Linked DNA regions of Homo sapiens. The protein of the gene in region 2 interacts with the protein of the main gene of each other region in a pairwise test. Each region holds a gene or a part of one and is shown on either strand. Other genes may lie near its edges. The genes, in order: KIF1B, ASB3, ENKD1 and KLF11.

Evidence for each region.
Region 1: the proteins of ASB3 (region 2) and KIF1B interact in binary tests that used the Homo sapiens proteins (3 or more experiments, as listed by UniProt).
Region 3: the proteins of ASB3 (region 2) and ENKD1 interact in binary tests that used the Homo sapiens proteins (3 or more experiments, as listed by UniProt).
Region 4: the proteins of ASB3 (region 2) and KLF11 interact in binary tests that used the Homo sapiens proteins (3 or more experiments, as listed by UniProt).

Annotation. Positions count from the first base shown.
Region 1 is NC_000001.11:10,374,570-10,381,593, forward strand, and holds part of KIF1B (kinesin-like protein KIF1B), read left to right. Parts: intron 1-284; coding exon 285-477; intron 478-685; coding exon 686-804; intron 805-1,975; coding exon 1,976-2,018; 3' UTR 2,019-7,024. UniProt on the Homo sapiens protein: Has a plus-end-directed microtubule motor activity and functions as a motor for transport of vesicles and organelles along microtubules.
Region 2 is NC_000002.12:53,699,934-53,706,957, forward strand, and holds part of ASB3 (ankyrin repeat and SOCS box protein 3), read right to left. Parts: intron 596-7,024; coding exon 338-595; intron 1-337. Other genes in the region: GPR75-ASB3 protein, read right to left, coding at 338-595. UniProt on the Homo sapiens protein: Probable substrate-recognition component of a SCF-like ECS (Elongin-Cullin-SOCS-box protein) E3 ubiquitin-protein ligase complex which mediates the ubiquitination and subsequent proteasomal degradation of target proteins. Recognizes TNFRSF1B.
Region 3 is NC_000016.10:67,663,746-67,671,021, reverse strand, and holds the start of ENKD1 (enkurin domain-containing protein 1), read left to right. Parts: upstream 1-4,271; 5' UTR 4,272-4,579; coding exon 4,580-4,664; intron 4,665-4,756; coding exon 4,757-4,951; intron 4,952-5,853; coding exon 5,854-6,026; intron 6,027-6,959; coding exon 6,960-7,085; intron 7,086-7,201; coding exon 7,202-7,276. Other genes in the region: uncharacterized protein C16orf86, read right to left, coding at 2,422-2,849, 2,924-3,521. UniProt on the Homo sapiens protein: Microtubule-binding protein which regulates microtubule organization and stability. Promotes the stability of astral microtubules and facilitates the proper orientation of the mitotic spindle.
Region 4 is NC_000002.12:10,046,527-10,053,550, reverse strand, and holds part of KLF11 (Krueppel-like factor 11), read right to left. Parts: intron 5,902-7,024; coding exon 4,956-5,901; intron 1,325-4,955; coding exon 1,044-1,324; 3' UTR 1-1,043. UniProt on the Homo sapiens protein: Transcription factor. Activates the epsilon- and gamma-globin gene promoters and, to a much lower degree, the beta-globin gene and represses promoters containing SP1-like binding inhibiting cell growth.

The DNA.
Region 1 (7,024 bases), on a different chromosome or scaffold from region 2:
ATCTGTACTGTAGTCTGATGCAAGTTGAGTCTGGGGTGAGAGGGCCAGCCTGGGTTTCTCCAGTTGGGTCTCATAATGCATCTGCACCCTGGCGCAGCATGTTGCCATGGCACGGTTTCGCTTTTGCCGTATTACTTTGGCAGATAAGATTCTAGGCCAAATAGGTCATTTGCCTGTTTCATCGAATCTAAGGACTTGGCCTAAGTGTGGCGTATTTTGATGGTCCTCAGCACGATTATTTTCTTTTTGTGAGAAACTAACTTTTGTCATATTGTCGTTTTTAGCTCAGTGGTCTCTAAGAAAGGATACCTTCATTTCAAGGAGCCTCTTTACAGTAACTGGGCTAAACATTTTGTTGTCGTCCGTCGGCCTTATGTCTTCATCTATAACAGTGACAAAGACCCTGTGGAGCGTGGAATCATTAACCTGTCCACAGCACAGGTGGAGTACAGTGAGGACCAGCAGGCCATGGTGAAGGTCCGTCCTGCCCTGCCTTGGTTTCTTATTGCCACGTGTGCCCTTCTCTTTTGATTTCTGCACTCTCTGTTACGTGGTGTGAAATTTCCCTATTCTCTCTGGTTTTGAACTTCCTTTGTGAAGTGCTATATGCCTTGGGAATATGGCAAGGCAGTCCCCATTGCTGTCTCTGTAGTAACTTTCTTGTCTACCTGCATTTTTCTTTCAGACACCAAACACCTTTGCTGTCTGCACAAAGCACCGTGGGGTCCTTTTGCAGGCCCTCAATGACAAAGACATGAACGACTGGTTGTATGCCTTCAACCCACTTCTAGCTGGCACAATACGGTAAGAAGTTTTGTTGTTGTTGTTGTTGTTTTTGAGACGGAGTCTCACTTTTTCTCCCTGAAGTGCAGTGGCTTGGTCTTGGCTCACTGCAACCTCCGCCCCCTGGTTCAAGCGATTCTCCTGACTCAGCCTCCCCAGTAGCTGAGACTACAGGCACGTGCCACCATTGCCTGGCTAATTTTCGTATTTTTTGTAGAGACGGGGTTTTACCACAATGGCCAGGCTGGTCTCAAACTCCTGACCTCAAGTAATCCACCCACCTCAGCCTCCCAAAGTGCTGGGATTACAGGCCTGAGCCACTGCACCCAGCCTAGAAGTTGTTCTGTGTTTTCTTTCTCTCTTTGGCTTTTGGCTTCAGGAATATCAGGATAAATAGGAAAGGAAGAATTTTTCTTTTCTTTTTTCTTTTCTTGTTTTTTTTTTTTTTTTTTTTTTTTGAGATGGAGTTTTTGCTCTTGTGTGGCCCAGGCTGGAGTGCAGTGGCATGATATCGGCTCACCGCAACCTCCACCTCCCAGGTTCAAGCCATTCTCCTGCCTCAGTCTCCTGAGTAGCTAGGATTACAGGTGCCCGCCACCACACCCAGCTAATTTTTTTTTTTGTATTTTTAGTAGAGATGGGGTTTCACCATGTTGGCCAGGCTGGTCTTGAACTCCTGACCTCAGGTGATCCACCCTCCTCGGCCTCCCAAAGTGCTGGGATTACAAGCGTGAGCCACCACATCTGGCTTGAAAGGAAGTATTTTTCAAAATAAATTTAAAAGAGAGGAAGGACAGGAGTGTAAATTGGTTGTGGGGTGGTAATGAGGCCTCTGCATCTTGTAAGGCATTGTCATGTTCTGAACCACCAGGGATACTCTGGTCACACATGTGCACCAATTATTTTCCTTCTTTGTCTTTTTGTTCTCAAGAGTTCTAAAGATGGGGCTCAGGGGAGAGAGTAAAGGGAGGACAGTGAGAACCTTAATGGTCTCCCAACCTCCAGCCCTGTGATTCAGCCTCACGTTCTGAGGGCTTGTGTCACAGGGTCCCGGAGTAGACGGCTTAGAGGACTAGGCCTGCGGTGCCAAATAGGAAGATGCTCCAGGAGGGAGCCTCAGAGGGAGAGGACTGTGAGGGGACAAGACTTGTACCCAGACTTCTAATCCTACCTCCCCGTTTGTCCCCCATAGGTCAAAGCTTTCCCGCAGATGCCCGAGCCAGTCGAAATACTAAGTGACTCTGCCGAGTGCCCTCACTCGCCTTCGAGAGATAAAGAAAGCGTTACCTCTCATTTCTCTTTGTGATTCTTGACGGTGACTCTTGTATGTAATCCTGTGGCTTAACTACTTCTCCCTCCTTGTCCAGCACTTTTCTAGCTCTCCCGTTCCCCATCTCCATTGCTCTGTACTCTTTTCTTTTTTCTTGTGCTGAGAATCTCGTTAGTAGCATGTGGCCTAACAAAAGGAAAAAATGTTTTTAAACACACACACACACACACACACACACACACACATACACAGACAAAAACACAAAAACTCTGAGGGGATCTGGTGAATCTCCAAATTATTGTGGGTGTACTTTGGCTTCCTTTTGTATGATAGGTCCCCATCATGACCACCTCTGATGTCTGTGCTGCTGTCACCAGGCACCTTTGTTTTTCAAGACAACATACTTTTTTTTTCTTTTCTCTGTTTGTGATATCACTTTAATTTTTCTTGGGTGGCTTAGAGACTAAGGGAGGAGACATCTGGCCTTTTTAGAACCTGAGAGGAAAAAAAGAGTCTTTTTTTCCCCTCTGTCTCTTTTTGCCATGGCTAATCCCTGCATTTCCATTCAGGGAAAAGGTGGTAGTGAGCATAGAACTGCAACAGTTATATTCTGAGTCAAAGTTGGGGCTTTTTACGGCATAATTATGGAATTTTTATTTACTGGTAGAGAGGAGACGAGAGGCTTTTTCAGTGGGCCTGGGACAGTGGCTGCTCTTGACTTTGTGTGAAGGGAAATGCCAAGGATGCTTCTGGTGGACTTCAGGGGACCCCAGGGTTTGGCCGTGGGCCGTGATGGCAGCAGGCGGTGGGATGCTTGTAGCTCCTCACAGCAGGATTCCTGCCCACTGTTTTTTCTCTGTTGGGAGGGAAGCTCTTTTCTAGGAGTGTCTCAGTTCTGCTTTTGGCATTAGTGATGGTGGTGGTACAGTTGGAATTAGTGCCATGTCATACACAAATGTTCCACAAGGCGGGAGTGTTTCACTTTCTGGTGATAAACTTGATGGTCATTGTTATGATTAAGATAATGCCGGGCAGGCCGGGCACAGTGGCTCACGCCTGTAATCCAAGCACTTGGGGAGGCCGAGGCGGGCAGATCACGAGATCAGGAGTTCAAGACCAGCCTGGCCAATATGATGAAACCCCGTCTCTACTAAAAATACAAAATTAGTCGGGTATGGTGGCACATGCCTGTAATTCCAGCTGCTTGGGAGCCTGAGGCAGGAGAACTGCTTGAACCCAGGAGGCAGAGGTTGCAGTGAGCCAAGATCGCGCTATTGCACTCCAGCCTGGGTGACAGAGCAAGACTCTGCCTCAGAAAAAAAAAAAAATAATAATGCTGGGTAGTGACCTTGTGATTGTTACAGCTCCCTTTGATCAAAGAAATATAGCTTTCAGGCATAAACCTGGAAGTCTCCCTCTGAATCCAGCAGTTGTTTTCATTGATGCTTGTCAGGTTGAAGATGCTTTCAGTGATGCTCTCTATACTCATAAATAAGCAAATGTGGCAGGCTTTGCTTTCTGGATCCCAGGATTAAAACTAACCGTGACCACTACTCCAAACAAAACACAATATGCCTAGGGGCACGGATGAACGTCCAGGGAGCCCGGGCCCCAGGCTTTGTTGCGTGTTCCCTGCTCCTCTCCATCTGGTGTGGAAACACTGCCCAGGGAGAAAGGAGGAAGCTCACTGTGGACAGTCTTCTTTCCTTCTGACAGACCAGGTCATCTGGCTTCCGAGATCATCAGAGAAGATAAGTCTGTCTCTTTCAGCTGCCAGTAAGTTTTCCAGGATGAGAGGGGAAAAAGAAAGCCTCCAGTGACTTCAGTTGCTTTGCCAGTTGTCTTGGGATTGTTTTACACCATCCTTTACTTCCCTTGCTCAGACCTCTCTGTTTCACCATTGCTCAGGCATTCAGGAAAGTATCTGCTCACTCCCACTTGGTGAGTCCTCGGCCTTGAGGTTGCTGACTCTCAGGCGTTAGGCAGCTGGATGACTTCCCGCTTCACGCAGCAAAGGCCAGGGGCTTGCGCGCCTCTGCAGAGTTGTTGCTAGGGAGACTTGTGTCATCATCCACAACCTTGTTTCTCACTTCCTGGTTGGGCTCATCTCTGAAGAACAGGTCTCCCAGCTTCGCTCCTTATCACTGCATTGTGAAGAGGAGGAAAAGTGAATCACGGAGAGAGAAAGGAAAGGATAGAATCACAGGCTGCGTCTGCACCTGAAAAGTGACCCGCGGAAACTCTATGGCGGATTTTTTTTTTAACTTTCTTCTTCCTGTTAAAACATAGGTCACTAACTGTGATGTTATTTGTTTTCTAAGTGGTATGTGAGATTTTCTAATGTAGTTAGAAGTTTCATTGTCTGATGGACACAATATGCCCTTCCGGTTCTATTCAAACCAGCAGGATCTGTCGGTGCTTAGAGATGGCTGCCTGGACTGGAATCAAATCTAATTTCAGGGAAATGAAGATGGAATTTGAAGGTCACTTTTAAAATTAAGTCATTGATGCTGCTGTTACAGAGTGTGACAGAGGATCCATGTCTGTGACACAGGACGGTGGGAAGCCTGAGAGAGAGTGAAATTATGTGATACACTGAAATGACTTTTGTTTTTCTTCTAACTCATACAAAACTGGTTTGGAAAGTCTTTGCTTTGGAAGCGTCAGACATTAGAACAGGCCAAACTGGACTGTCTGTTCATAGCGTGCCTGAATAAGAAGGCCTCTTAGGGAGCCAGAGGGAGCAGAGTGGTCGTGTCCTGCGTGCTCTTCACCCTCTGGGGCGCCCCTGCTGCGGCTGGCAGGTGCAGACAGCCTTTGCTGGTCCCCAGCACGTCCAGGGTGGGTGCTCCCTTGCCCGACAGAACCATCCCCACTGTGAGGCTGTGAGAGATTTGTGGCAGGAACTGTTTATGAGGCTCTAGTTGTTGCTGTTGTGGCGGGAAAGTTAAGAAACATAGCCCTTAAGGAAACCACCTTTATGTATTTTCTTAAAGCACGCCTTTAAATAAGCAAAAACTTTAAAAGGCAGGAAAGAGAATTCTTAGGCAAATTCAGAGAAATAAGTGCTAGTTAATACTAATCACCTCCTCCTCTGTCTCTCATCCTCCTTTCTCCCATCAAAGCAAAATATGGCCTCACCACCAGCCCCAAATCAGTGCTCAGACCCTCTCTGTGTCTGTGTGCCCTCCTGGGAGTCAGTCAGCGCTCAGGCCAGGACTGTGCAGGGCCAGCCAGCCCATGCGCTAGTCAGGAGCACAGGCAAGGGGTGCTTGTGGCAGTGGCCGGGCACCTGAGCCCCAGCTCGTTGTTAAACGTGCTGACGGCAAGGGGCAATGGAGTGAGTTTCCCAACTAAGAAACCACTATTATATATTTTTTCCCTTCAGTCACATAGACTTCAGACAACTCTCCTATTTTTTATGGATTTTTCAGCTCATTTCAGATGAAGGAACTAAGTCATTGTGAACTGTCTCTTGAGATCTAAAAACAAGATGACTTTTCCTGGCACATATTCCAAAGCAAAGACTTTGTTGCCTGCTGCTTATTGTCTAATTTACAGGGATATTTAATTTTGTCAGGTCTATGTATATTTATCCAGCTATACTTACTTGCACAGTGGATTGGAGAGAAAGGATTCTCCAGTGTGCACACTCATCGGTACTCTTTCTGCATTTCCCTCGTGCTGTGTCCCGCTCGGGTTCCAATGGACAGTATCAGGGCTTGTTTGACTTAGGTCTTTCAGTTTTCCTTTCGGTTCCCTTTTAAAAATGTGATTGTTAACCTGCCTCTTGAAAGATTCAACCGGGTGTGGTGGCTCACGCCTGTAATCCCAGCACATTGGGAGGCCAAGGCAGGTGGATCACCTGAGGTCAGAAGTTTGAGACCAGCCTGGCCAACATGGTGAAACCCCGTCTCTACTAAAAATACAAAAAGTAGCCAGGCGTGGTGGCGTGTGCCTGTAGTCCCAGCTACTTGGGAGGCTGAGGCAGGAGAATAGCTTGAACCTGGGAGGTGGAGGCTGCAGTGAGTTGAGACTGCACCATTGCACTCCAGCCTGGGTGACAAAGCAGGACTCCGTCTCAAAAAAAAAGAAAAGATTCATGATGCTGCTGCTCCCAGAAGGTTTGCTGGATGTGTTTACATAGGACTCTAACTTGTGTGCACTACAGTTGTTCACCAGGGCCAGTGATTCACCCCAGTGTGTGGCCAGACCATGACTGTGTAGCAGGAATGTTTTAATTTGTGCTTCCTTAGTAAATTGAAATATCAGCTGAGAGATTATTTGCTGCTGTTATTCAAAAGGCCATTTATGAAGTTAGTATTTGAGCCCCATAAGATCTTTAAAAAGCCTCCAATCATTTAAAGGAAGAAATCAGAGTTGCTATAAAATTCAGTAAAAAGCTCATAGCCAAACGGCTGTGCTCAGATGGAAAGTCTGAGCTGAGGTTGGTCTCTTGCCAAACCGTGGCTGTTGTGTGTTGTTCTTCATGTCTTCGAGTTCATTTTTTTTCATTCTGCCTATTCTGGCATCAGCTCACTTGAGGAGTCCCTCAGCCTTCTTGTATTTAAGGCATCGTCTTAGACTTTGTGGCTCTAAAGTACCTGTCTGTTGAGATTTCAAGTCTCTTGTCACCATCCTCACACATGACAACAAAACCCATAATGCATAAGTGGCCTTTTTGAACCAAGACTTTGCAAACTGATCTCTCCCCCGTGAAGGAGTTGAGCACATTAGCAACAATGTACATTAATTTTGGATTTTCATTTTCATGTTTTATTTTGTAAATATTATCTGATGTTTGGAGCTTGAGTATACAGACTGTAAATATAGTTCTTGTATTTGTACTAATTCTGATTCTTTTGCTGTATAGCCTTAGATGTGCAATGCAGACACTATCTAACTGTGTGTGGTAACCTTGCGTCACGGAGCTGTTAGTGAACGAGGTAAAAATAATAAAGGTACAGCCAG
Region 2 (7,024 bases):
AGAAATCTCCAAAGCAGCTCCAAGCATTCTTTCTTCTGTTACAGGCATTTTAAGAGAAGCATGAGGAATGCCCAGAAGTCGAAGAAATATCCCTCTTAGAAGAGCTCACTGGCATCTATCCCCTCATACCTCCTTCCAGTCACCTCTTATCTTTTCCCAGGACTCTGTGCTTAAATTCAATCTCATTATTAGCAGCCACCAACTCCTTCACCCCAATTCAGCCATCACAGTCAAAACACAGATACCCTTCTCCAAACACTGGGATCTCAACTGAAGGAAATTAAAGGTAGTATATTCACTCAAAAAGGGTAAGCCCGACTATGGTAGAATTTCTTACCAAGAATTGCACAGTAGAATCAGTGGGTCAAATCCAGCAACCAGAAGATGTGGCAACCACTCCTTATATTTTGCTTGTGCTTTAATTGCATGATTTACAAATTCATATATATGGTTCCATGGTCCCAATGAGCAACCTTTCCTCAAAAAGTAGCGAAATATCGAAAACTTCTCGTACTTCAGGCAGTATGCCAAATGAAGTTCATTTATCTGGGCTCCATATTTCAAAAGAATGTTCACAATTCCAAAGAACTCACAGCTCCACCATAAAAAATAAAAACAAAAAAAGAAGAAGTTAGACTTTGACATAAGATACTTCTTACAAACAGTTAATAGTAGTTACAGCTGGGGAATAAGTATGGCAGATTAAATAGTGGATGGTTTCTACACATCTAGTGGATTGAGATTAGAGAATGTGGTGGGGCTTTTGCTTTTTACACCCTCCTGCATGGTTTTTAATTTTCAACTGTGAACAGGTATTATTATAATTTAAAACATTCATCTTAAATGTCATTTTAAAAAAAATTATCATTGACAGAAAACTCAAATTGTGATATTTTGTACAAATGAGTATCTTTACTACAAAATACTTTGCTTAACAAAATCAATAAACAACGTGATCAATCCTTAAAACTAAATGATTCTAGGAATCTCTAAGATATCATTTTCCTTAGCAATAACCTTAGCCAATTTCCCTCCCACTTTAAACTTATTTATTTTTCTAGATACAGGGTCTTGCTCTGTGGCCCAGGCTGACGTGCAGTGGCACAATCAAGGCTCACTGTAACTGAACTCCTGGGCTCCAGTGATCCGCCCACTTCAGCCTCCTGAGTAGGTGGGACTACAGCTACATGCCACCATGCCTGGCTAATTTTTAAATTTTTTTGTAGAGACAGAGTCTCACTATGTTGCCCAGGCTGGTCTCAAACTCCTGGCCTCAATGAATCCTCCCGCTTTGGTCTCCCAAAAGGTATGCCACCGTGACTGGCCTTACATTTATAATGGTATTAAAAAAAATTTAAAAACTTTTTTAATTAACACAAATTTAATTTACAATACTACATCTTAAAATTAATTAACTTCTATTATTATCTCCATTGTAGATGCAAAAACTGAAGCTGAGTCACAGAGCTAGTAATTGGCAGAACTGGGATAATGATATCAAACCAAAATCTAACAGTGAATATGACATAGCAAATTTCTGCAATATCTCTTCTCTATTATGAAAACTGAACACTTCATGATATAGCCAAATTGAAGAATATTTTAGAGCCAGATCTATGTTTTCCAAAGTAGGTTACACAGAACTTTAGTTCCTGAAAATGATCCATATGAAAAATACTCTCCAGTGAAAAAAACTGAGAAACCTCCTTATACAGTATACAGTGAGCCTGAGAAAGATAGGATGAATGTATTTTTAAACAATGTGTTAGTTACATTTCCAAATATATGCTCAATGTTTTTATTCAACTTTCAGATACTTTTCAGAAGAGGTACCTTTAAAATTAACAATGGGTCCAATCATTAATCTGAAAAAAGCAAACAAAAGTATAAAATGCCCAAAATTCTGTAAACACAAGAACAATGGTATATATACTTAAATATAAGTTCTATCCTATGTTTCTGGACTTTTCAAATCTTTGTAGATCCATTCCTCTTTTAGGAATTCACAAAGCACACTACAATAAGAAAAATTCTCAAAAGCCCTCTACAAAAGAAACATATTCAATATTATTTAATCCTGTACTTCCCAAACTTATTTAACAATACAACCCCTTTAATCCCATATAATATCTATTAACAATCTACAGAATTAGTATTCTACCAAAACACACTTTAGAAAATCAGCTCTAAACCTCTTCCAATTATTCACATTGCCTTGTATTAGAAGGGGCAAGAGTAAATCCCAAAAGGCTTATAAAACTGCACAGTGCTACAATATAGACCATTTCCCAAAAAAACTACCATTTGTTTGAAGAATAAAATAAACACAAAATAAACTGGAGAAGCATAGAGTTTTGTCAGCATGCCCTGAGCTTCTGGGAAGGTTATTAAAGAAGGTCTCAAATACATGTGCACACTACAGAAACACAAGCAACTTCAACTTCAGGGCTCTATATGACCTTGATTATTACATGTCACTAAGCACACAATAAATCCTTGAGCATGGATAACCTCTGGTTAAAATATAAATTAGTATGTATTTCTCTTAACACTTCAACAAATTCTCTCTGTAGCCCTAATATCAAATTGAGAAAACTCTTCAAGTACCCGAGATTTAAACAAAAGTCTATCTTGTTTAACATAAATATCAAGAATTAATTGTGACATAGAGGGACTGTACATTATATAAGAAGTGAACAACATCAGATACTGAGAGGAGAGATTTAAAAATTAAAATCCAATGTCTAGACCTTATTTTGGGGGTTTGCACATTTTCTACCACTCCGCTCCTTGAAGTTCAAAACTATGCAGAAAAACAGTGCTCACACATAAAAGAAGCACAGTAAGAGAAAATTCAACATGAAAACAAAATTTACTTTAAACAAATAGAAATGGGCAAATATCTTCAGCATTTTATGTTCAATTAGCAAACAAAATATCCAACCAACTTATTAGGTGAATTATAACAGGCCAAATAGTGAGTTTTACTGAATGGCTTTCGACCATTAGCTGAAAACAAGATGAAGACATTCAGTTTTGTCAGATGTGCCCACACGATATGGTGGCTAGAATGGACACAATTAATTCTATGAAACTAATGTAATAACAATGATTAGTATCAACTAGAAAAACAGACAAAACCAGGTGAGCTAAGCCACAATCTACTTCTGTGGCCATATATAAAAGGCATTCATATTTGCTCAAACAGTCCTAAAACTTCTCAACTTCCCTCTTCCTTTCCCATTCCATTTGGAGGAATCTTTTTCTTATATTTCCTCATTCGAGATGGATTACTCAATTACTCTTGAAAGACTGGCTTCATATCAATATAGCTGCTAACTTTTTAGCTCCAAAGGACAAAAACTGCTTTTGTTGCAGGATCTATACAGTAGTGGAGGAGACACCTTTCCATCATCCCTGGGAGTGGTGAAAGGAGCTAAGTGTCATTCTCACAAAGAATACCTACCAAAAATGTTTCAGAACACTGATACTGAGCTTAAAAGTTGAATTAGCTGAAAAAATAATAAGGAAGAGAAAACTTAAAACCTGGGGCACCTTAGGAGGCCAAGGCAGGAGGATCACTTGACCTCATAAGTTTGAGGCTGCGGTGAGCAATGATTGCACTACTGCACTCCAGCCTGGGCAACAGAGTGAAATTCTATCTCAAAACAACAAGAATAAAGAAAATCCAAAGCTGTTATTTATCATTTTCATCACCTTTTGGTGTTAATTGTACTATTTATAAAAGTAGATAAAAGTTTATTAGAATACAACAGGTCAATAGTGCAAGAAAGTCCACAAATAGTAAATTAATAGATTTCAGAGAAATACTAGAAAATATACAAATGAGAAAAGGGAAGTCTTTTAGCCATTAACACCTGAAGTCGGATAGGTGTTAATTACAACAATCATACCAAATTAACACTATCATAACACATTGTTGCTATAAAAATAAAATTTTTAAACTTATACCATTAAACTTACTATCTATTACCAAATCCCTAAAAATTAGAATATCAAATAATTAATTTTGGAAAATTGAATCTTCTAAGTTACCTGGTACCAGTATTGTGACCAAATTTGAATTCTTATAACTGGTAAAAGTGATATAGGAAATTCGTGTATCACTCATTAAGAAAAGTAAGAAGGGCTAGGCGTGGTGGCTCACACCTGTAATCCCACACCAAAAAGCCAAGGCGGACAGATCACTTGAGGCCAGGAGTTTGAGACCAGCCTGACCAACATGGGAAAACCCATCTCTACTAAAAATACAAAAATTAGCCAGGCGTGGTGGCATATGCCTGTAATCCCAGCTACTCAGGAGGCTGAGGCATGAGAAACGCCACAACCCAGAAGGCAGAGGTTGCAGTGAGTCAAGATCACGCCACTGCACTCCAGCCTGGGCCACAGAGCGAGAGACTGTCTCAAAAAAAAAAAAAAAAAGGGAAAAAATAACATATGATAGCTATTTTAAAATTAAGATTATATTCAATTGTCCTTGCTTTATAATTGGTGACTGTAATTAATTTAATTAATTTTAGTCATGTGATTGTAGGCAATCCAAATTTTAAGATGCTTACTTATCAAAAGAAATAACCAAAAACATATTTTTCAGCTTCAATTTTTTTCCCTCAGACACTGGTTATATGACCCTCTTGACATACCAAAGCAAAACCTACTGGGAAAATGATCATTTTCTTGCTTAATTGGAAAAGCTTCATACAGAAACTCAAAATGAATAAGTCTCATATTACATATACAGTAAATGTATAAGCAACCAGCCAGACATTAGATAATAAAAATGTGGTATTTAGTTTTCTTGGAAATAATGAAAGGTTTTCCTTTACCTATTAGGTAACTGGTCTAAAAAAACAAAGATTCTGCATTTTATCAAGATGATTCCCTGTGCTTCATGTTGTCTTTATTCTATCTGATCACTTATGAAAACTCTCTAATAAAGAACTCAGGTTTTTCTACAACTATATAACTTTCTGCATTTGCCTTTTGAAGCCATTTAATTATCACTCTAGATGAGATAAGTGACTATTATTTCACATTGACCTGTGATCCTACTTTGGTAAAGTTTTTTGAACCTTGATATTTTTGACAAAATTCCCACAATCAAATTCTACGTCTCTTTGACCTTAAAGTTTGCTATGTTCTATTTTATAGAATAAGGTGTTGCCCAATTCTAGAATGAAAAATAAAAAGACTAAGAGAATACACCCTCCTAAAACAGATATTTTGAGGTTTTGACTTTATTTTTAAAGGCTAAAAATATAGCATTTTCCAATGACTACTTACTGAAAATCTACCTAAGAATATATTGGTTCAATTACAAGTCTCACATGAAAGAAAATCGCTCATATGCCCTTTCGATAGCACAAAAACAAATTGTAATTATGCTCACATGGCCACTTCAAAGAGCAAAATTTCTAAGAGATGCAAAAACAAAACACACAAAAAAAACAAAACTAAGTTTGTTAACTCATGTCTGTGACCAAGGACTACTGTACACCATACTGCTTCACCTTTACTTTTCTTTTTCTTCTTTGATCCGGGGAGAGACTAGGTCTCCCTTACATTTGTTTTATAGCATTTTGATTTTTCTGACCATGCCTTTCTGTGAGTTTATCCTGTTTGGGTTTAACAGGCCTCTTAAATCTGTAAATTTATATCTTTATCCAATAATAGGAAGTTTTTGGCAATTATTAATTTACATATTTTTTCTGTGCCCAATCTCCTCTCCTTCTGGATTTTAATGACATGAATGTTAGACCTGTTGATACTGTCCCTTCGTTCCCTGACGCTCTTGTTTTTTTCTTCCATCTTTTTTCTCTTTTGTACTTCTGTGTGGATAATTTCTTTAAATTTGTTTTTAACCTTTAAATTTGTTAAACATTTGTAAATATTTGTAAATTACAAAAGCTAGTTGCCCAGAGAGGGACAGTATGAAAATATGAGTAGATGTTCCAAACAGGCAATATCCTAGAATGCAAGTACAAGGCACACATCCGGGCAAGGTGATCTGTACATATATTGACATTGAGACCAAAGACTCTCTCACCCAAAAAACTAGGGTTTTTTTAAGACAATAATTACAAATTACAAAGCATTTTCACAACTGTTAGCTCATTTGATCCTCAAAATAATTTTCTAAAGCAAGCTTAGGTGTTATTACTATCCCTATTTTAAAGATAATGGAATGAGATTTAGCAGAATGAAGTGAAATACCCAAAGTCACACAGCCATTATACATCTGTGACTCATCCAAGCCCAAGAATCATGCTCCATCCTTATCCCTCCACAAGGCATTGAGGAAGACTAACATATAATAAATATGCTAATCTGATATAATTATTGATTCATTAATTCACAAATATATTTTTAATGCCTAATAGGAGTTAGATCAAGGGCAAATCCTTGCTCTCAAGGAGCTTACATTCTAATGAAGAAGCAGGTATGTAAACAGACAAAATATTATGTCTTTAAAAAGGAGTCAAAAGGCAGCTTCTTTTTTTTTTTGTTTTTTGAATCTGCTATGTTGCCCAGGATGGAGTGGAGTGCAGTGGCGTGATCTTGGCTCACTGCAAGCTCTGCCTCCCCGGTTCACGCCATTCTACCGCTTCAGCCTCCTGAGTAGTTGGGACTATAGGCACGTGCCGCCACGCCTGACTAATTTTTTGTATTTTTAGGAGAGACGGGGTTTCAGCATGTTAGCCAGGATGGTCTCAATCTCCTGACCTCGTGATCCGCCCACCTTGCCCTCCCAAGGTGCTGGGATTATAGGCATGAGCCACTGCACCCAGCCAAAACGCAGTTTCTTAATAGGAAGTCTTCCCCCAGCATTCTCAGCCCTGATTCTTATGCCCAATACTAGTTACTAAGAGAAATATACTTCTAGTGTGAAGAAAAGCAATTCATCCATTCTCACAATCTGGTAAACATATCCAACCTCTTTTGCTCAAGTGTTGAGCTAACAAAACAACCTTCCATATTGTCTTTAGGAACACTGGGTTGTCCG
Region 3 (7,276 bases), on a different chromosome or scaffold from region 2:
AGGAGCAGTAGGGACTTGGTCCTTTCTGCAGCTCCTACTACCCACCCTGCTTAGACAAGTCCATTGGGTAATAGGCCTCAGGAATTGCAGACTAGTTCTCCCACGATTTCTAATTCCTGCCTCACCTGTGAGAAGACAGGACCAGCTCTTCCTTATCAGTGCTGGCCTCGTTCACGCTTCCAGCCCTGGAGACCGCACAAAGATACAGAGGCCTTCTTGGGTCCGGCCTTAGCCAGAGAGCCCCCAGGTCGGCAGATCCTGCACAACTCAAGACAGGGATTCCTAGATCCCAGGGTGTGGTCTCATGCAAGGCCACTTCTCTCCAGGCCTCTGCCATCCCAAACATAAAGCAAGGAGGTTAAGCTCAATTATCTTGGCTGGGTGTTTTGGCTCATGCCTGTAATCCTAGCACTTTGGGGGGTCAAGGAGGGAGGATTGCTTGAGGTCAGGAGTTTGAGACCAAGCTGAGCAACACAGACCCTATCTCCACAAAAAAAATTTTTGGCCGGGCACGGTGGCTCACATTTGTAATCCTTGAGTCCGGGAGGCAGAGGTTGCAGTGAGCCAAGATTGTGCCACTGCACTCCAGCCTGGGCAACAGAGCGAGATGCTGTCTCAAAGAAAAAAAAAAGTCCTGACCCCCATGGCTTGTCATGGGGCCAGTGAGCACCCAAGTGACCCTGTCAAAGGAGGGAGCAGGCTGGGATGATGCCAGAAAGGGGACCCTGCTTTTCCCACCTGAACCTGCCCACCCTACTCCCTCCAGTGACCTTGCCAGGCCATATTCCAGGGAACCTACATATTAGACTGTGGCCTCGGGATGGCCTCAGCATTTCAGATTCTGGCCTGTCCCTCTCTGCAGCTTCCTCCACCCCTCACTTCAGTCTCATCACCTTGGTGCCTTTTAAGGGGCCCTCTGGCTAGGTCGATGTGATGCAATGAGATGTGCCCTTAGGGAGCTCACGGTCTAATCCCGATGACAGTTATAACCCACATGATAGCAATGCGCAGGGGCTGCAATGCAGGGCAACATGGGGTGCTGTCTGGCTCCCCAGGAAGCAGAATCCCAAGTTTTCAAAGGTGTGCGTGCACTAGCCAGGGGGAGAGGTGGGAATAAAGGCATTTTAGGCAGAGAAAGCCCCACATGCACAGAGTGAAGGGAGGAAAAGGTGTAACTGCTCAGGGAATTACCGGAAGCCACTGAATTCTAAGGTAGCTGGGGCAAGAGGAGGGGAATCCCAAGGGGGAGTGACACCATCAGGGGCTCAGGTGTGTGTGTCACAGGGCCACTGGATGGATCCGTGGGCCAAGGGATGACAGGCAGGGTGACCAGTGAGGCTGTCACCTGGAGATGACAGTGGTCCAGGCGACGGTGCTGACTGTGGGGTCCGAGAGGTTCTCAGCCTGAAAGGGTAGGATCACTGGCCTCAATGTCTGCTTAGCTTGTAGGAATCAGGGAGCAAAGAACAGGATGGGGTCTGGGGTGACACCCAAGATTCTAGCTTAAACAATTGTGCAGATGAGATACAGGAGGAAAAGCCAGTTGGAGGAAGGGGAAATTTCCATGAACTTAAAATTCCCTGTGTCTGTTTGTGGTGTCCAAGGAACACACAGGAGGCCCAGGATGTGCAGTTTCCAAAATGGCCAACACTGGCTGGCTCTTCCCAGAGATCCTTGCCGGTTGGACACAGCTGTCATCCAGTGGCTTGGCCTCAGGGTCCCAGATGCACTTACTGCCCCTGTCCACCCCTGCCTGCCAGGAAAACATCACTGATGCCCTGTCACCTGTGACCAGAGGCTACTCCACAGACAAGGTCCGGTCCAGCTATGGTCTGGCAATGAGTAGGAAACATCCCAAAGCTGTCACTGTTGTGACAGGCAAAAGAACTCTGTGCTACCTCCTAGGAGGATCCCAAGTTTTGATCCCCTCAAGGTGAGACCAAATGCAGGCCCTTCCCCAGGAGACAGAAGAGCAGGGCCAAACACCTGCTTCCCATGACCCAACAGACCCTTTCTTTTCTCTGCCCCAAGTTCCTCCTTCTCACTTCCCTCTTCATCACCCAGTTAGCTGCCTGACCCTCAGATTCACCTAAACACACAGCACCAGGTCCACCCTGATTCAGTGAGGCATGGGGTGGCACAAAGGAATCTGTCATTGTCAAAGTCTCAGGTGATGCAGATGACCATTCAGGCCTCAAACCCTGCACTGTTGAGTCCTCCATCCTCTTACCCATTTCAGGCAACCTATCTGGGGAATCACAAAGTCTTTGAAAAAGAAAAATATTTATTTTCAGCAAGACCAAAGTCCCAAGTGGGGGCAGGTGCCAAATTTGCCCCCGCCACCAGAGGGCCTAGGCCCACAGGAAGCCTGAAGCCAAATTCAGGCGTGGAAGGAGGGGAGCCACCAGTGGGGCGGGACAGTCACTTGTACTGAGGAGAGAGCGGGGGGACAAGTGGAGCAGTGCAGACACTCAGCATCTTGTCGATGTCCACCTGGGTTGACTTATCCACCTCGGCCTTGTGGTCACTCACCCCCAAGCTGGGCAAGCCCCCAGGCTCCTCTCCAGCCTCCTCTCCGAGGGGAGCCAGGGCATGGGTGGGGGTCACTAGTGGACTGGGACAGGGCAAAGCGAGGCCTGGGCCCAGCTCACCTGCCAAGGGCAGCAAGGCCTGCAGTTGCTCCACACCTCCCTCCTCGGGAACCGGGGCCAGCTCTGCCTCTGCCTCCACCTCAGCCTCCCCGTCCCCCTTCCCTGCCTGGTTCAGCTCAGGGTTGCAATAGTTGACGTACTGGTACAGCGGCCGCAGGCGCTGGGCCTTTCCTGCAAAGACCCAGGGCAGGGCAGAGGCTAGAGCGCCAGGTTGTGCCATGTCGGGCCCCACAGGCAGGGGGAGAAGGAACAGTCCAGGGACTGCCACTCACGCTCCAGCCTCAATGTCTCTAAGGGTGCAGACACCATGCTGGCCACAGCGTGGAGCACGGGAGCCCCCAGGCTCTTGCGCTTCTTGGCTTTTTTGTGCTGTTTGGCAGATGGTGAGGGCTCACTCTGGCTGTCCTCTGGCTCCTCCTCCTGCAGCGGCAGCTTGGGTGGCAGCTCAGCTTCAGCCTTAAGATGGGCACGAAGGCCCGGGAGGCTGAGAGACCTGAGCCAGGGACAAGAGACTTGAGCCAGGCTCCAGCCCTGGCTCCCATTCCCTGGCCCAGGGAATAGCCCAGCCTGCCCACAGCCCCAGGGCTCGACGCCTGTCCCGTTCCTGGTCAATGAGACCCCAGGCCCAAGAGGCTTAGAGGCCAGTGAGCCCAGGCCCCTACAAGCCCTGAAGCTCCCACTCTCCTGCTGCTCCCTACACGGGGGCTCTTGAGGAACGGGAGGAGAGTGATGGTAGTGGCTGGGGACGAGAATCCTCCCTGCAGGAGTGCAGGATTTAGGAATCCTACTGTGGTGTGTGCCCCAACCCCGGGGCTGCAGCTCCTTCCCCCCGAGAGCCCCCTCACTTGACAGGCTTTCTCTTTGGACCATGACGGGGCCTCACAATGGAGACCACGGGCCTGGGGCCTCTCTCCTCTAGCGCCCCGGCATGCGGCTTGGGCCGCTCCTCCCCCAGCTTGGGTCCTTCCTCCTGGAGCTCCGACTCCGAAGCTGCGCCTGCTGGGCGCTGGTCTTCACTCTGGGTTCCGCGGGCCTCATGGGCAGGCACCAGGAACTGGTCTCCCGCCACTGGACACTAGAGATGACACACAGGCCATCGGTCACCATGGCCGGGCAAAGGACATAGGGATCCGTCACTGAACACCTAACGTTAGACACCGAAACGGGAATAAGGACACCAGCCTGTGCCCCTCCCCGCCTGGAGGGCCCAGCCTGGCAGTTAGCGGGTCGGGGCGCTCAGTTCCACCTCTCAGAGCGCTGCGGCCCTGTGTTTGAAGGTTAAACAGCCTGACGGTCACCTCGGAGGTCTGAGCGCTGCCGGGCTCCTCCGTGAGCTGTCCCTGCCCCACGACCGTCGCCTCCTGGACCCCCGGCCGCCTCTCCGCCCCTGCCGAGGCCATGGCTGCGCAGGCTGAGTGCGTCCTCGACAGCTGCTTGGGGCGGGCCCCAAGGGGCTGGATGGTGGCCCCGCGCTGACCCCGGAGACCGGCCAGCAAGCGAGGGCAGAGCTGGGAAGAGAAACCGGCGACCGCGGAGCCCACCCTCGGCCGAAACTACAAGCCCCAGGACGCTTTGCGCCGGGGTCAGTGGGCCCTGACCCCGGGGACGGAAGCCACGGTTGCCCGGCAACAACAAGTCCCGTCGGGTGGCAGCGGCTGGCGGCAAAACCTCTCGAGTGAGCCCCTGCCCGAGTGCCGCGGGGGAGAGGCCGCGAGCGGGACCGAGAAGTGGGCTGGGAGCAGAGGTCGCGGAGGTGGCGAGCGAGGCCGGGGCCCAGGCGGGGACCGGCAGGGGCCCGGGAGTGGCGGGCACGCCAGGGTCAGGGTGCCGGGCGAGGGAGGGGGCCCGGGGTTGGGGAAGGGGGCCCGGGGAGGGAGGTAAACAGCCCTGCAGGCCTCGGGGCACCGTTGCTGGGCGGCGCCGGCGGCATGTGCGAGGGCCCGTCCCGCATCTCGGGGCCCATCCCCCCAGACCCGACGCTCTGTCCTGACAACTACAGGCGGCCGACCTCGGGTGAGTCCGGGGGCTTGGCGGTGGTGCGAGGCTCAGGGGTCGGCCCTGGCTCCACCTCTGAGCCCCGGACTCCGCCCGGCTCCGCCCCACAGCTCAAGGGCGCCTCGAGGGAAACGCGCTGAAGCTGGACTTGCTGACTTCCGACCGGGCCCTGGACACCACCGCTCCCCGTGGCCCCTGCATCGGTCCCGGTGCCGGAGAGATCCTGGAGCGCGGCCAGCGCGGCGTCGGGGACGTGCTGTTGCAACTCGAGGGGATCTCCCTAGGTCCTGGGGCCTCTCTCAAGAGTAAGTCCCAGGAATGGAAGAAGGGACAGAGAGGCAGTGCGGGGTGGAAAGAGATCAAAAGCAGCTGCTCTTTCCACCCTGACGTGGGCCCAGGCTTTGCATCTCTTGAGTCTCAGTTTCCCCAACTATAAAAGGGGGAGAAATATGCTACCTTCTCGAAGGAGGTGAACTGAATGAGGTAGTTCCCACGAAGCCCTAGCTCTGCTTTATGCATTTGTTACCCATTAAATTTGTTTGTTGAGTGCCTACTGTGTGCCAGGCCATATAGATGCTAGAACACAGGGCTGAAGATAAGCATGAGCCATCACTGAGTCAAGGTGGGATACAAAGATCAAGAGATGAATGTCATATATGAGATGATCTATGGTGTACTTCAATGGTGTACTTCACTATAATAATGGAGGAAATCACCTGGGCGCAGTGGCTCACTCCTGGAATCCCAGCACTTTGGGAGGCCCAGGCGGGCAGATCACTTGAGTCCAGGAGTTGAAGACCAGCCTGGCCAACATGGTGAAACCCCATCTCTACAAAAAATACAAAAATCAGGCTGGCATGGTGGAGTGTGTCTGTAATCCCAGCTACTCGGCAGGCTGAGGTAGCCGGGGAGGTTGAGGCTACAGTGAGCTATGATCATGCCACTGTACTCCAGCCTGGGTGACAGAGTGAGACCCTGTCTCAAATAATAATAATAATAATAATAATGGAGAAAATCATCCTGTGATACTTACTACATGAGGAAGGGAACACGGTGATGAGGGAGAGTGTGTGTAGGGTCTAAGGTAGTTGGAGAGGTCAGGGAGCTCTTTCTGTAGGAGGCAGGGGGCAGGCCTGTGTGTGAACTAGTGGAAGTTGGACTGTGTGGGCCCCATGTAGGGCAGAACCTGGGGGCATCTTTTCTCCAGGGAAGGACCCTAAGGACCATGAGAAGGAGAACCTGAGGCGGATCAGGGAGATTCAGAAGCGCTTCAGAGAACAGGAGCGCAGCCGGGAGCAGGGCCAGCCCAGGCCCCTGAAAGCTCTGTGGCGCTCACCCAAGTACGACAAGGTGGAGTCCCGGGTCAAGGCCCAGCTCCAGGTACCTGCTTCAGGGAGCCAGAAGTATTATCCATTTTGTTGGCCAACAGGCAACTGTACCCTGATCTGAGTTCTGGGGTGGGAGGGAAGTCACAGAGGTAACAGAGGACTAAGAGACCCTGGCTCTGCTGCAGGGCGAGGCTGGGGGGCTTCTCAGAAGTAGTGATGGTGGGGCTGATCCTGAGGGCAAGTAGCAATTAGTCAAAGGGACAGCAGAAGAGAACATTCCCAAAAGATGGAACCTCACAGACCACAGGGCACGCAGCAGTGGAGATGCTAGGTACAGTTCACTGTGAGGAAAGAAGGGCGTGAAGTTAGGCCAAGAAGTCAGCTGGACCCACGTCAGGGGCCACAAAAGCCACTTTTCAGCCCTTATTTCTGAGGACAGTGGGAAGGGCAGGGGTATGGTGGGGGGCTCTGTCTCAGGGACTCAGTAGGAGGAGCAGGAGTGAGAGGAAAGGCAAGGTCACACAAATGTGTTGTAGCTGAAGCATCTGTGGGGTTCCCAGGGGGTGGGAGTGTGTCCAGGAAGCAGATGGAAATTCAGGCCTGGATCTCAGGAGTGAGACCTAGGAGTTATTGACGATCAGGTTGAGGACAACGAGACCAAGGAATTGACCGCCTGGATTTGAGGACTTGGAGGCCAGCTGTTAGGAGCCTTGCAGGGCTAGAGCCAGGAAGCTTGGCTAGGAAGGAGGAAAGAGAGTGGTAGCTGGGCCAGTACTGAGGTGGAAGGAGAGATGGTTTGTTGTTTTCTTAAAAATCTGACATACTCACACATTTGTGTGCTGATGAGGACAAGTGTCCCTTGAAGAGGGAAGAGGGCCCGAGGGACATGGATGCAAAGGTCAGAAGGGCCAAGATGGCCAGGGTCTTGCAGCTTGAGCCCCAGACCTCAGCCTGCCTGCTCTCTCTGCTGTGCCCTGCCCTCCAGGAGCCTGGCCCTGCCTCTGGGACAGAGTCTGCCCACTTCCTGCGGGCGCACTCCCGCTGCGGCCCTGGCCTCCCACCACCCCATGTATCTAGTCCCCAGCCAACCCCACCAGGTCCCGAAGCTAAGGTGAGAGGATGTATGGGGGCTAGATGGTGGTTGGGCAGGGCTCCTGGTGTGGGGGGGGTGTTCAGGGACACAACATAATGCTGTCTGCCCCCACCCACGCTTGCTGTGTCCTGCAGGAGCCAGGCCTGGGGGTGGACTTCATTCGTCACAATGCACGAGCTGCCAAGAGAGCCCCCCGGAGGCATTCCTGC
Region 4 (7,024 bases), about 44 Mb from region 2:
CTGCCTGCCTTCACATGCATCTCGCCCCAGCTAAGCTGTGCTCTGGTGGAGTTTCATCCAACCAATACAGACATTTCCTTTTTTTCTGAGAAGTTACTCTACCCACAATATAGTACGGATAAGGCCACAGCAAAAGGAGTCAGAACTGACAATTGACAAAGCAGCTGGATTTGAGTGTTTCTTTTTTGGTGTTTTAGGTACAAACAAGAAACTGAATGGCTTGCTTTCAGCAGAGCCATGGCCAAGACTATTACAGACTAGATCCTGCAGCAAGTACTGGTCCCTGGGATCTGCCCAGTGGCTCATGTTACTCTCTGGGGTACATCCTTCATGACACACCATGGACACAGCTCACTAGTTCCAGTCAACCAAAATTTTAGTTCTTTGGTGACAGGAATGATTGCCTAGAATTTCCTTGAAAACGTTATGAAGAAGCTGACGGCAAAATTTATTTTTCCCTTTTAAGAGGTCCTTACTCAACCAGGTCCGATTCCAAAAAGATCTAAAAGGCCAGATAACTTGTGGTTTTTGTAGTGGAATAACATGTCCAGTTTACTAAAAGAAGGGCCATTAGGAAAAACTTTGTTATTAAACACTGAAAAGAAGGCTGCAAAATGATCTAGCTAGAAATTGGTGATTTGAGCACCAACAATATAAATATTTTTCTAAAAACCAGTATAAAAATTAGTACCCTGTCTTATTTCTACAAAACATCAATAGAAAAGGTTGTAAAAATCCAGATTTTGTAAACTTTATTGCCGAAATATTTGTTTGAATGCTGGTGATTCAGATTATCAAATTTTCTACCATTTCTTTAAAAAAAAAACCAAAACAAAAAAACTTCTGAAACTACAAAAGATACTGAACAGGGTCCCAAGTGGAAAAGAAAAGTTAACATACTTTCATCAAAACCAGCTCCCCGATCTTCCCCTAGGCCGCCAAGACCGTTTTTTTTGGGTGAGGCAGTGGGAGAGGAATCCATCAGTTCCATTCCTGGAAAGAGGCTTTTTAAAAATCCCATGAGTGATGTCCTAATGGACCTTTCAGGCAGAGGCTGGCATGCTCACCAGTGGGCTCCCCGGGCTCTCTGCAGAGGCGATTCTGTTCAGCTTGCCAACCTCTGCCTGCCAGCCTGGGATCTTCTTGGTCGTCATGTGGCGCCGGGCATGCTTCGTCAGGTGGTCACTGCGCATGAAACGTCGGTCACACACCGGGCACACAAACTTCTTCTCCCCTGTGTGAGTTCTGCGGTGGCGTGACAGCTCATCCGAACGAGCAAACTTTTTATCACAGCCATCCCAGCTGCAGTTGAAAGGCTTCTCCCCTGTGAGGTGAGAAAATACATATTAAAGAGAAAGGAAACGCTAAGCACCTTATTCAAGGGGTTAATTCATGTCATTTTAAAATCGTGTTCATCAAACTCAGAAGAAAGTGGTATCTTATTACTCTGGAATTGGATGATTTGGGTCAAGAAATCCTCCAAAAGGCATTTATTCCTCCCACACTTAAGATGCAGCTATGTTAGCACCCAAAGATTTCAAGCTAATCTTTCAAAATATATTTAAAAATAAATCAGGCGAAGTACAAGTACAGCGGCTCAAACCTATAATCGCAGCACTTTGGGAGGCTGGAGACGATCAGTTGAGCACAGGAGTTCCAGACTAGCCTGGGCAACAAAGTAAAACCCAATCTTTACCAAAAAACAAAAATAAATTAATTAAAAATGTAGCATCCAGCCAGGCGCAGTGGCTCACGCCTGTAATCCAAGCACTTTGGGAGGCCGAGGCGGGCGGATCACAAAGTCAGAAGACCGAGACCATCCTGGCTAACACGGTGAAACCCCATCTCTACTAAAAATACAAAAAACTAGCCGGGTGTGGTGGCGGGCACCTGTAGTCCCAGCTACTTGGGAGGCTAAGGCAGGAGAATGGTGTGAACCCGGGAGGCAGAGCTTGCAGTGAGCCGAGATTGCACCACTGCACTCCAGCCTGGGCGACACAGGAGACTCCGTCTCAAAAAATTAAAAATAAAAAATGTAGCATCCAGCTGGGCACGGTGGCTCACGCCTGTAATCCCAGCATTTTGGGAGGCCGAGGCGGGCAGACCACCTGAGGTCAGAAGTTCGAGACCAGCCTGACCAACATGGCGAAACTGTCTCTACTAAAAATACAAAAATTAGCTGGGTGTGGTGGTGGGTGCCTGTAATCTCAACTATTCCGGAGACTGAGGCAGGACAATCGCTTGAACCTGGGAGGCGGAGGGTGCAATGAGCGGAGATCGCGCCATTGCATTCCAGCCTGGGTGAGAGTGAGACTGTCCAAAAAAGAAAAAAAAAGTAGCACCGGCCGGGCATGGTGGCTCACACCTGTAATCCCAGCACTTTGGGAGGCTGAGACAGACGGATCATGAGGTCAGGAGATGGAGACCATCCTGACTAACATGGTGAAACCCCGTATCTACTAAAAATACCAAAAAAATTAGCCAGGCATGGTAGCTGGCACCTGTAATCCCAGCTACTCGGGAGGCTGAGGCAGGAGAGGAGAATGGCGTGAACCCGGGAGGCAGAGCTTGCAGTGAGCCGAGATCGCGCCACTGCACTCCAGCCTGGGCGACAGAGCAAGATTCCATCTCAAAAAAAAAAAAAAAAAAAAAAAAAAAGGTAGCATCTATTCACTCTACCTTACTCCAATTTAAATATTTTTCAGGTTGGCAGAAATATATATAAAAAGCAATCTTATCCAAGGTAAACTTGCCCAGTTTCTACTTCTCATGAAAATTCCAAGTTTACAAAATGGCACAAGGGGATTCTTCAGAACTCTTACAGTTATTTATTTTTATTTTTTGAGACGGAGTCTCACTCTGTCACCAGGCTGGAGTGCAGTGGCGTAATCTCGGCTCACTGCAACCTCCGCCTCCCAGGCTCAAGCGATTCTCCTGCCTCAGCCTCCCAAGTAGCTGGGACTACAGGAGCGTGCCACCAAGCCCAACTATTTTTGTATTTTTAGTAGAGACGGGGTTTCACCATGTTGGCCAGGATGGTCTCAATTTCTTGACCTCGTGATCTGCCTGCCTTGGCCTCGGAAAGTGCTGGGAATACAGGTATGAGCCACAGTGCCTGGCCAATTTTTTTTTTTTTTTTTTTTGAGATAAGAGTCTCGCTCTGTCGCCCAGGTTGGAGTGTAATGGCGCAATCTCCATTCACTGCAACCTCCATCTCCCAGGTTCAAGTGATTCTCCTGCCTCAGCCTCCTGAGCAGCTAGGATTATAGGCATGCGCCAGAAGGCCCAGCTAATTTTTGTATTTTTAGTAGAAACGGGGTTTCACCATGTTGGCCAGGCTGGTCTCAAACTCCTGACCTTGTGATCTGCCCACCTTGGCCTCCCAAAGTGCTGGGATGACAGGCGTGAGCCCCTGTACAAGGCCTGTTATTGAATTGGAAGTACTTTAGGAAACATGGAAGCAACTTGTTTCAATCACTGCAGGTCATTCTGTCAGTACTTCTACCAAGGTAAACCAAATAAACGGTAAAACTTCATTCAGTCACCTCCAACATTTGGAAGCTGTGCTCTGGTGTAATGCAAAGTTCCCCTGGAGAGTCCCGGTGAAATGCAGAGCTCACCAAGTCAACAAGCCCATTAAAAGAGGCAGGCAGGTCAATTCCCCTCAGAAACACCCGTTCCCTGACACAGCCCCACGTCCATCTGCCATGCAAACAACCAACCCTCATTTACTGACTAGTGTCAGGCCCTTTTATCAAGCACCAGGAATATATCCAGGTGAGATATACAACTAACTAAAAAACAAAGGGAGACTATAGTAAGACCTACAATAAACCACTAGGGTCAAAGAAGGAAGATAAAGAAACAATCTAATAACTAATCCTAGGAAGGCCCTCAGAGGGTTTCAGTAAGTAGAGATGGGCAGAGGGCCAAGAGGGAAGGGTGGAAATATGGAACCAGACATAGAATGTTGGGGAGACTGTTTCTGAATGGGCAGAGGTGAGTACCTCATGGGCCAAGTTTGGCTTTATCCTCAAAGCAAGCAGCCACTCAGTAGAATGGAGTAGTAGAGTTCCTCTTATAATGTCTGAACACCAGACTGCACTTTATTCTACACGTGGAGGCTACCACGATCAGAGCAACAGAACACAAACTCACAGAACACCTGAGAAATGGTGCCCTCACCTACTGAAGCGATTGTCTATCCAGCAACACTCAGACCACTGCTGCGCAGCAGGGCAGCCACAGGTCCCATGGAGCTATTTAAACTTCAAATACTAAAAAATGTAAAATTCAGTTCCTCAGGCACACTAGCCACACACTTCAAGTGTGAGCAGCCAGTGGCTACCCTAATGGACAGACAACAAACATTTCCACCATTGCAAAAAATTATATTGGACAGAGCTGGTTAGACAACAGAGAGATCATTAGGTCAGCATAGTTTCTTGTGTGACTTACTTTAAATTAAAAACTACTCTCAGAGGTAAGAAAACTATACTCTTTTAAAAAATATTTTAGAATTTGAACTTTTCTATAGTTTGGCCAGACCTTTTCTCACATAAACATAAGTCACACTGGTAAGATACATTTACTAAATGTGAATGAATGCATGTTTTCTTTAAAAAAAAAAAAAAAAAAAAAAGGATGAAACGTCTACTGCAATGTGAACAGAAGGGGGCACTGTAAGTCACTCTAAAAGCTACCAAAAGACACAATCACAGAACTATACTACATTTTATCTTCCAGGGCGAGCGCTCTGTAGGCAAAATCCTGATGGCTGTGCAAACAATCCCACCCTTACAAGGTTGTGCGGGCTTTTCAGAACCAAAGAAAAAGCCACACTTCCACCTTCGCCAGGGGTTCTCATGATCCCCTCCCAGCCAAAGGCGGCTCAAGGTGTGCTTCCTAACCACAGGGTCTGGTGTGCCCAATGCCCCACCTGCCCCAGCGCTTACCTGTGTGAGTGCGAAGATGGGCCTTAAGGTGGGAACTTTTGAAGTAGGTCTTCCGGCAACCTGGGAAGCTGCATACATAGTTCCTCCTTCGGGAAAAGTCTACCTGAGGGACACAGTTTTGGCTAGAGGTGATGAACACTGGAGCAGGGGCAAGGGGCAACAACTTGGTATTCCCGGCAGCCATGACATTGGCTGCACAGGGGGCAGGCGGAGGGAGGGCTCCCTGGGGCAGGACCAACATCACAGCTCCCTGAGGCACAGCAGGTCCCACGAACACAGGTTGAGGCGCTGGAGCAGCCTGAGCTAGGATGGGTCTCACAGTCCCCACAGACAACTGGGGAGGGGGCTTCAAAAAAGCTGGTAACATGCTACTTTGTCCAGTCACAGGGATCATCTGGCAAAGGACAGGGGGAGCAGGGACAGAGACAGAAATCAGAGGGGTGGTTTTCCTGGGCAGGTCATTTTCATAATTCTTTGGTGAGCAAGTCTGAACTGCACCAGGCCACCCTGCCTGCTGGCCTTTGTCAGTGAGCAGCAGGCCACCAGACTTGTGCAAGCAGGGCTGACAGGACACCAAGTTAGTGCTGAGTAAACTGTCCGTGAGGTGTGTGTCCTGCAAAGTTTCAAAGTGTCCCAGAAGCTGCTCTTCTCCTTCTCTGCTGTCAGAAAGCCGGCAATCTGGAGTCTGGATGGTGGGAAAGCAGGCAGCAGGGCTCTCCCCAGTGTGTCGGATCACGCTAGTCCCCTTGGCCCTGCAGGGAGAGCTGGGCACTGGCTCCAAACCCAGCAAGCCCCTCTCCGCGCCCCCGCTCAGAGCTCTGGCCACTACGGCAGAGGACTGGAGAACATCCGTGGCTGTACATGCTTTGGAATCTGTTACTTGGGGAGAAACAGGTGTCCTTGTCGATGGCTCCACGAGATCAGGGCTCTGAGGAGGAGTTATGCACTAAAAAAAAAAGTACCATGTTAAAAGGTTGCTTTAAATTTTAAAAGGGATTTAATTCATCACAATGCTCCCAATACCTTTACACAGAATCATCTAGACACTCAGTTAACCCTGTTTTCAACATCCCAGTGGGTTTCAAGGCTGCATGAGGCACTCTGCTTTCTCAGCTTATTCCCAACGTGTTTACCTCTCCCAAACCTACACAAGAGCCCAGTGCAGGGAACTCTGAGAGGAGCTCCTGGCCGCCAGGCCCACCACTTCTGCAACCCTCCCGACAACCCACAGGCCCTTCCTATCCCTCTCCAAATCTGCTTTCTACACTCTTCTTTCAGAGCAAGCTTCCAGCCCAGGACAATCACAATTTCCACTTCTGTTAGCAACCTACAGTTCTCAGCTTCTCCAAGCTGAGATGCAATTTTTCCAAGTACTTTCACAGATGTAGCAAATTAAAAAAACAAAAAGCAAGAGTGACTTACTGCACCCAACTCACAGAACTCACATTAAGGAGTCGGCTGCCACGGGAGGGCAGAGGTGCCACCCAACGAAGGCAATCTGATGTCAAAGTACATGCTTTCTCCAGCTGCTACCGATATATTCTGACACTAGGCTGGAGAACCTAAGCTCCACCCCGAGATTCCCCTGGGGAAGTAAATTTCACTTTCTCACATTAATCTGTAGGTTTCATCCCACGGACATTAACCACGTAGCTAGCAAGGTATGATCCATCCATAGAAAGAGCACATTTTTCAGAAATGAAAGAAAAGTTTCTTTTTTTGTTCTTTTATTTTTTTTTGAGATGGGGTCTCGCGCTCTGTTGCCCAGGCTGGAGTGCAGTGGCACGATCTCGGCTCACTGCAACCTCCGCCTCCCGGGTTCAAGCGATTCTCCTACCTCAGACTCCTGAATAGCTGGGACTACAGGCGCCCGCCACCACACCCGGATAAATTTTGTACTTTTAGTAGAGATGAGGTTTCACCATGTTGGTCTGGCTGGTCTCGAACTCCTGACCTTGTGATCTGCCTGCCTGGCCCTCCCAAAGTGCTGGGATTACAGGCTTGAGCCACCATGCCTGGCCAAAGGAAGAGTTTCTACTCCTTCAGACCCACACAGAGAGGATACGCAA